2 linked regions of the Homo sapiens genome follow. The protein of the gene in region 1 purifies or fractionates together with the protein of each later gene. This does not show direct contact. Each region holds a gene or a part of one and is shown in the gene's direction. Other genes may lie near its edges.

Evidence for each region. Proteins that work in one complex are often made in the same cells at the same time.
Region 2: the proteins of MEFV (region 1) and NLRP3 purify together in Homo sapiens (affinity purification with western blotting, with the first as the bait; one study listed by BioGRID). This does not show direct contact.

What each region holds. Positions count from the first base shown.
Region 1 is NC_000016.10:3,246,634-3,250,133, reverse strand, and holds part of MEFV (pyrin), read left to right. Parts: intron 1-353; coding exon 354-703; intron 704-1,129; coding exon 1,130-1,225; intron 1,226-2,887; coding exon 2,888-3,118; intron 3,119-3,500. UniProt on the Homo sapiens protein: Involved in the regulation of innate immunity and the inflammatory response in response to IFNG/IFN-gamma.
Region 2 is NC_000001.11:247,429,673-247,433,172, forward strand, and holds part of NLRP3 (NACHT, LRR and PYD domains-containing protein 3), read left to right. Parts: coding exon 1-83; intron 84-3,500. UniProt on the Homo sapiens protein: Sensor component of the NLRP3 inflammasome, which mediates inflammasome activation in response to defects in membrane integrity, leading to secretion of inflammatory cytokines IL1B and IL18 and pyroptosis.

The sequences.
Region 1 (3,500 bases):
GGTTCAAGTGGCAAAGGAACACTGGTCAGAATGTCTCTTTCCTTGGCATCACCTGCTAGATCTATGTCTGTGCAGGAGGAACAGCACAAGGCCATGGGTCTTTCTTTAGGATAAATGCCCAAGAATTCCAAGGCTCAGGAATGTCTGAGGTCTGGCCCTTAGCTCTCAGGCCCAGTGGCCTGTTTGCTTCCTCACTGGATGGAAGTCGGGGGAGGACAAGCTAGGAAGTGGGCAGAGTCTAACTGAGAACTCGCACATCTCAGGCAAGGGCTGTGTCCGCTGTGCTTTGTGATACCTCTGTGTAAGCAACTTGGGTTTGCCATTCAGGGGGTTTTTCCACTGCATGTCCCCAGGAAGGCCACCAGACACGGCTGCGAGTCCCCGCTGCCACGCCCAGGAAGGAGACCCAGTTGACGGTACCTGTGTGCGTGATTCCTGCAGCTTCCCCGAGGCAGTTTCTGGGCACCCCCAGGCCTCAGGCAGCCGCTCACCTGGCTGCCCCCGGTGCCAGGACTCCCATGAAAGGAAGAGCCCGGGAAGCCTAAGCCCCCAGCCCCTGCCACAGTGTAAGCGCCACCTGAAGCAGGTCCAGCTGCTCTTCTGTGAGGATCACGATGAGCCCATCTGCCTCATCTGCAGTCTGAGTCAGGAGCACCAAGGCCACCGGGTGCGCCCCATTGAGGAGGTCGCCCTGGAACACAAGGTAGGCACTCCCTGCCTGTGGGCTCTTCTCTGCCAGGCACTTGGACACACTGGGCCTTACTTCATTTTCCCAACAACTCTGGGTTGTTGGTGCATTAACCAGCATTCTTGGGCTGGAAATGGCAAGAACACAATATAAACCAGTCCAGCAAAGAGGGGAGCTACAGGTTTATGTTGCTCAGAGATCCAGGGGGAGCTGGCTTCAGGTATGGCTGAATCCAGAGGCTCAGAGGAAGTGCCTCTCAGCTCTGCTGCCTTTGGCAATTCAGCCATTCCTCCCTCCTCTTTCCTGAGCACCCCTCCCCATGCCGCTGGCAGCAGCACCCTCAGCCTTGCTACCAGAAGGAGATGTTCCCCTCCAGAGTTGGCACCAGCTAAAGATGGCAGGAGCCAAATTCAAGCTTTTCAACAAGTGCTGTTTTTCCAGAAGAAAATTCAGAAGCAGCTGGAGCATCTGAAGAAGCTGAGAAAATCAGGGGAGGAGCAGCGATCCTATGGGGAGGAGAAGGCAGTGAGCTTTCTGGTAAGGTCAGAGGTGGCTGATGGCCCATCCGTCCCTGGGAGGAAGGTGGGAAGAGTGAGCAGGGGTCCCCGAGATTCTGCTGTGGTTCACAGGGCAGCAGGGATGGCCACCTCCTCTCAGGGGACAGAGGGTAACCAGCAGCCAAGGGTAAGCTCATCCCTGTAGAGGGAGACCACCCCCAGCAGGCAGGGGTCACCTCTGAGGATCCTGTCATGCTTTCTCATACTCACCAGAAGATGGTAGAGAGCAACCTATGCCGGTGACTACTGCAGAAAGATGGGATTGAGGAAAAGGGAGGAGAACGCCACTTTCTTTTTTTGTGACGGAGTCTCGCTCTGTCACCCAGGTTGTAGTGCAGTGGTGTGATCTTGGCTCACTGCAACCTCTGCCTCCCGGGTTCAAGCGATTCTCCTGCCTCAGCCTCCTGAGTAGCTGGGATTATAGGTGAGTGCCACCATGCCTGGCTAATTTTTGTAGTTTTAGTAGAGATGGGGTTTCACCATGTTGGTCAGGCTGTTCTCGAACTCCTGAACTCGTGATCCGCCCGCCTTGGCCTCCCAAAGTACTGGGATTACAGATGTGAGCCACTGCGCCCGGCCAAGAACACTTTTAACTTCATAATTTACTCTCTGTTTTTTTGTTTTGTTTCCAAGATGGAGTCTCGCTCTGTCACCCAGGCTGGAGTACAGTGGCACGATCTTGGCTTGCTCCAACCTCCACCTCCGAGGTTCAAGCAATTCTCCTGCCTCAGCCTCCTTAGTGGCTGGAATTACAGGCGCCTGCCACCGCGCCTGGCTAATTTTTGTATTTTTAGTAGAGACGGGATTTCACCGTGTTGGCCAGGCTGGTCTCAAACTCCTGACCTCAGGTGATCCACCTGCCTCGGCCTCCCAAAGTGCTGGGATTACAGGTGTGAGCCATCGTGCCTGGGCTGGTTTTTTTGTTTTTTAGGGTTTTTTTTTTTTTTTTTTTTTGAGATGGAATCTCACTCCGTCGTCCAGGCTGGGGTGCAGTGGTGCAATCTCGGCTCACTGCAAACCTTCGCCTCCCCAGTTGAAGCAATTCTCCTGCCTCAGCCTCCCGAGTTGCTGGGACTGTAGGCACATGCCACCACTCCTGGCTAATTTTTGTATTTTTAGTAAAGACAGAGTTTCCCCATGTTGGCCAGGCTGGTCTCGAACTCCTGATCTCAAGTGATCTGCCCAACTCAGCCTCCCAAAGTGCTGGGATTACAGACATGAGCCAATGCACCCAGCCCAAATTTCCCCATTTTATAAGACAACATTTATATTGGATTAGGGACCCACCCAATCCCAGTAGGACCACATCTTAACTAATTACATCTGCAAGAACTCTTATCTCCAAATAAGATCACATGCTGAGTACTGGGGGTTAGGGCTTCAACGTGTAAATTTTGGAAGGGACACAGTTAAACCTTAACACCAGGTTTAAGGACATTTTCCCAGAGCTAGCCCCAGCCATGCTCAGTCTTTTCTGGAAGGTTCCAGACAATATCGCCTCCTGCTCTGGAATCTAGGCCTTGAAGAGGCAGCATAAGCCCACCTCTTATCCACCTCCAGGAGGTGGGCTTCTGGGGGTTCCTGGACATCCACGTCCACCCACAGCACAGACCCCCATACCTCCCTGTCCTCTGCTCCCCAGAAACAAACTGAAGCGCTGAAGCAGCGGGTGCAGAGGAAGCTGGAGCAGGTGTACTACTTCCTGGAGCAGCAAGAGCATTTCTTTGTGGCCTCACTGGAGGACGTGGGCCAGATGGTTGGGCAGATCAGGAAGGCATATGACACCCGCGTATCCCAGGACATCGCCCTGCTCGATGCGCTGATTGGGGAACTGGAGGCCAAGGAGTGCCAGTCAGAATGGGAACTTCTGCAGGTGGGTGTGCCTGGGCCCGGCTTTCTTGGGTCCCCTGTGCCTATCAGGATGCCTCAGGCTCCCAGCTCTGCCATCAGCCGTGCTGGAACAAGTGGGTGAAGCCCCTAAGGCCTAGGATAGGACTTGGTCTTGGTGACCCACAGTGCCTCTTGTGCCCAGACCCCTTTGATGAGGTCTCTCAGGAGCCCAGGGTGGCCTGGTATCCAGGGGATCTCTGCCATTTCCCAGAAGGGATCAGCAGGGCTTGAGGGCCGTTCCATTGCAGGCCTCGCCACCTGGGATGCCTGAATTCCCGTGGTTAGAATTAGACTTGAAGAAAGGTGCTCCACTTCCACTGACACCCTAGGGCAGGGAGCCCTGGTAAGTGCAGCGGGGAGCTAAA
Region 2 (3,500 bases), on another chromosome or scaffold:
AGTGACAATTCTCTGGGGGACCCAGGGATGAGAGTGTTGTGTGAAACGCTCCAGCATCCTGGCTGTAACATTCGGAGATTGTGGTGAGTCCCCGTGCATGTGATCTGTGTGAGTGCAAGTTCATATGAGAGAGAGAGAGAGAAACAGACTGGAGAAAGATCTTCAGGACCAGGTTGCTGGTGTGGTTTCTTTCTTTTCTTTTTCTTTTTTTCTTTTTTTGAGGCAGAGTTTTGCTCTTATTGCCCAGGCTGGAGTGCAATGCCGTGACCTCGGCTCACTGCAATCTCTGCCTCCTGGGTTCAAGTGATTCTCCTGCCTCAGCCTCCTGAGTAGCTGGGATTACAGGCACCCACCACCATACCCAGCTAATTTTTTGTATTTTTAGTAGAGATGGGGTTTCATCATGTTGTCCAGGCTAGTCTCGAAGTCCTGACCTCAGGTGATCCGCCCGCCTCGGCCTCCCAAAATGCTGGGATTACAGGCATGAGCCACCGCACCCGGCCGGTGGTGTGGTTTCTGCTGTAACAAAGTGCCACAGACTGAATGGCTTCAACAACAAAAATTCATTTTCTTGCAGTTCTGAGGCCGAAAGTCTAAGATCAAGGTGTCAGCAGGGTTGGTTTCTTCTGAGGCCGCCCTCCTTGGTTTGTAGATGCCCCCTTCTCCCTGTGTACTGATGCCATCTTGCCTTGGGGGGAAGAGTGGCCTAGTCTCCTCTTCTTACAGGGACAGCAGTCCTGATGGATTAGGCACAGTCAGGCATGACTACACAAGACCTAATGTTAATCTAGTCACTCCTTTAAAGACCCCATTTCCCAAAACAGCCACATTATGAGGTCTTGAGGATTAGGGCTTCAACATGTAAATTTTTGGGGGGGCACAGTTCAGCCCAGAACAAGTGAGAAGGTAGAATGGGTTGGAGGCCAGCTGGGGAAGTTTTGTGTGGGGAAGAATGAATGAGGAACTAAAAAAAAAGTCATTTCTTGAAACAACCATGATGCTCGATATATTCCATTTCCTCATGGGCCATGTTCATAGATGAGAGTTGGAGAATTTGCCATTTACAACAATGGCAACCTCACCTAAAAACTATGAAAATACTTTTTTTTTTTTTCTTTGAGACAGGACCTCTCTCTGTCACCCAGGCTGGAGTGTGTGATCACAGCTTACTGCAGCCTCGACCTCCCAGGCTCAAGCAATCCTCCCACCTCAGCTCCCCCGAGTAGCTGGGACTACAGGCATGCACCACCATGCTGGCTAATTTTTGTATTTTTTTTGTAGAGATGTGGTCTCATCACGTTGCCCAGCCTGGTCAGAATGCTTTGTATGGGTTGAAATGTCACAGGGAATCTCCTGTGACTTTATTAATAATGTGCTTGCTCACACCTGTAGTCCCAGCTACTCGGGAGGCTGAGGCAGGAGAACTGTGTGTACCCGGGAGGCGGAGATGGCAGTGAGCCGAGATCGTGCCATTGCACTCCAGCCTGGGTGACAGAGCGAGATTCCATTTCAAAATAATAATAATAATAATAATAATAAAAAATGTGCTTGCTTTCTCCCACACCATGAATCAGATTCACACGCCCCACCGCGCTGGTGCCTGGGCCGCCTCACTAGCTCTGTTTCATTCCCTGCTCTGTGGACGCATGCAGGCGTCTGCATTTTTGAGGAGCTGCACAGCAAGTGTTAAAGTCCGCCACTCTAGGACATTTTGCTACCTCCCTCTCCGGCTCAACACACTCACCTTGTCACCAGTCTTATCAATTTTTCCTCCTACCCGAGCTGTTTTCCACTTTTCCTCGTCCTCACCCCACCAGCCCAGGTCCAGCAACTGTCACCACTTGCCTGGACACGCAGTGACCTCCTAGACCATCAGCTCCCCGGGGATGGGGTTTGCGTTTGTTTGTCTTGCTGTCATCTTTGCCACGCCTGGACAGACATCTTAGTACCCATCAGTGGTCAAAAGCACGCACTGAATGAATGTTGGCTCTTTGGTCTCCCTGTGTCTGCCTTTTTCCCTCACCCGACCATTCTCTGCACAAAAGTAAGATGGTCCTTTAGAAAATTCTGATTCGATTGTGCTGTTCGGTGGCTTAAATGCTTTCTGTCTGCTCTGCTCTTTATTTTTTACTTTATGTATTTATTTTTGTAGATGTAGGGGGCGCAAGAGCAGCTTTGTTTCATGGATATGTTACTGCACAGTGGTAGTGTCTGGGCTTTTACTGTAACTACCCCTTTTTTTTTGAGATGGACTCTCGCCGTGTTGCCCAGGCTGGAGTACAGTGGAGTGATCTCGGCTCACTGCAACATCCACCTCCTGGGTTCAAGCAATTCTTCGAGTAGTTGGGATTACAGGCATGGGCCACCACGCCCAGCTGATTTTTGTATTTTTAGTAGGGACAAGGTTTCACCGTATTGGCTAGGCTGGTCTCAAACTCCTGACCTCGTGATCCACCCGCCTCGGCCTCCCAAAGTGCTGGGATTACAGGCGTGAGCCACCGTGCCCGGCCTTAGTGTAACTCTTACCCAAATAGTGAACATTGTACCCAATAAATAATTTTCCAGCCCTCACCTGGCTCCCACCCTCCCACCCTTCTGAGGCTCTAGTGTCTATCATTCCATGCTCTATGGATGTTACCCTTTGTTTAGCTCCCACTTGTAAGTGAGAACGTGTGGTATTTGACTCTGTTTCTGAGTTGTTTCACTTAAGGTAATGGCCTCCAGTTCCATCTGTGTGGCTTCAAAGATGTGACTTCATTCTTTTCTATGGCTGAGCAGTATTCCATTATGTATATAGATCACACTCTTCATCTTTGCTCTTTTGGTAAATTTCAAATCGTAGTGCCATGGAGACTGGTTGTTTGGGACATTTAACCTTATTTCTCCAACTTCATGCCCAAATTCTCTCCCCACTGCCATTGCCCCTGTATGATTCTGGAGAGGCAGACACAAACAGGGAAGGGTAGGGGACAGTGAGATGCTTCGCAGAGAAGTAGAGATCCATTTGTCCATTTGCTTGAAGTTGGTGTAAGGATAGGGACAGAAAGGAAGGTGGTCTAACAGGCTCCAGGACCTATGAACTATTGCCCTGGAAAGAAGCTAGAATGTTGTTCTTGCCCCCATGACAGGGATAAAGTATAGTTTTTGTTGCTGGTGGTGGTGGTGACGGTGGTAGTGATGTGCGTGTGTGTTTGTGTGCATGTGTGTGACGGGGAAACTAATCAAGAATCAGAGCTGCAGCGGGATGTGGAATCCCAGCACTTTGAGAGGCTGAGGTGGGCAGATCACCTGAGCCCAGGAGTTCAAAACCAGCCTGAGCAAGCTGGTGAGACCTTGTCTTTAGAAGATAATAATAATAATAAAAATAAAATATAAATAAAATAAAATGGCTAAGCATGGTAGCACATGCCTGTATTTGCAGCCACTTGGGAGGCTGAGGCAGGTGGATCCCTTGAGCCCAGGAGTTCGAGGTGGCAGTGAGCTATGATCTCGCCAGTGCA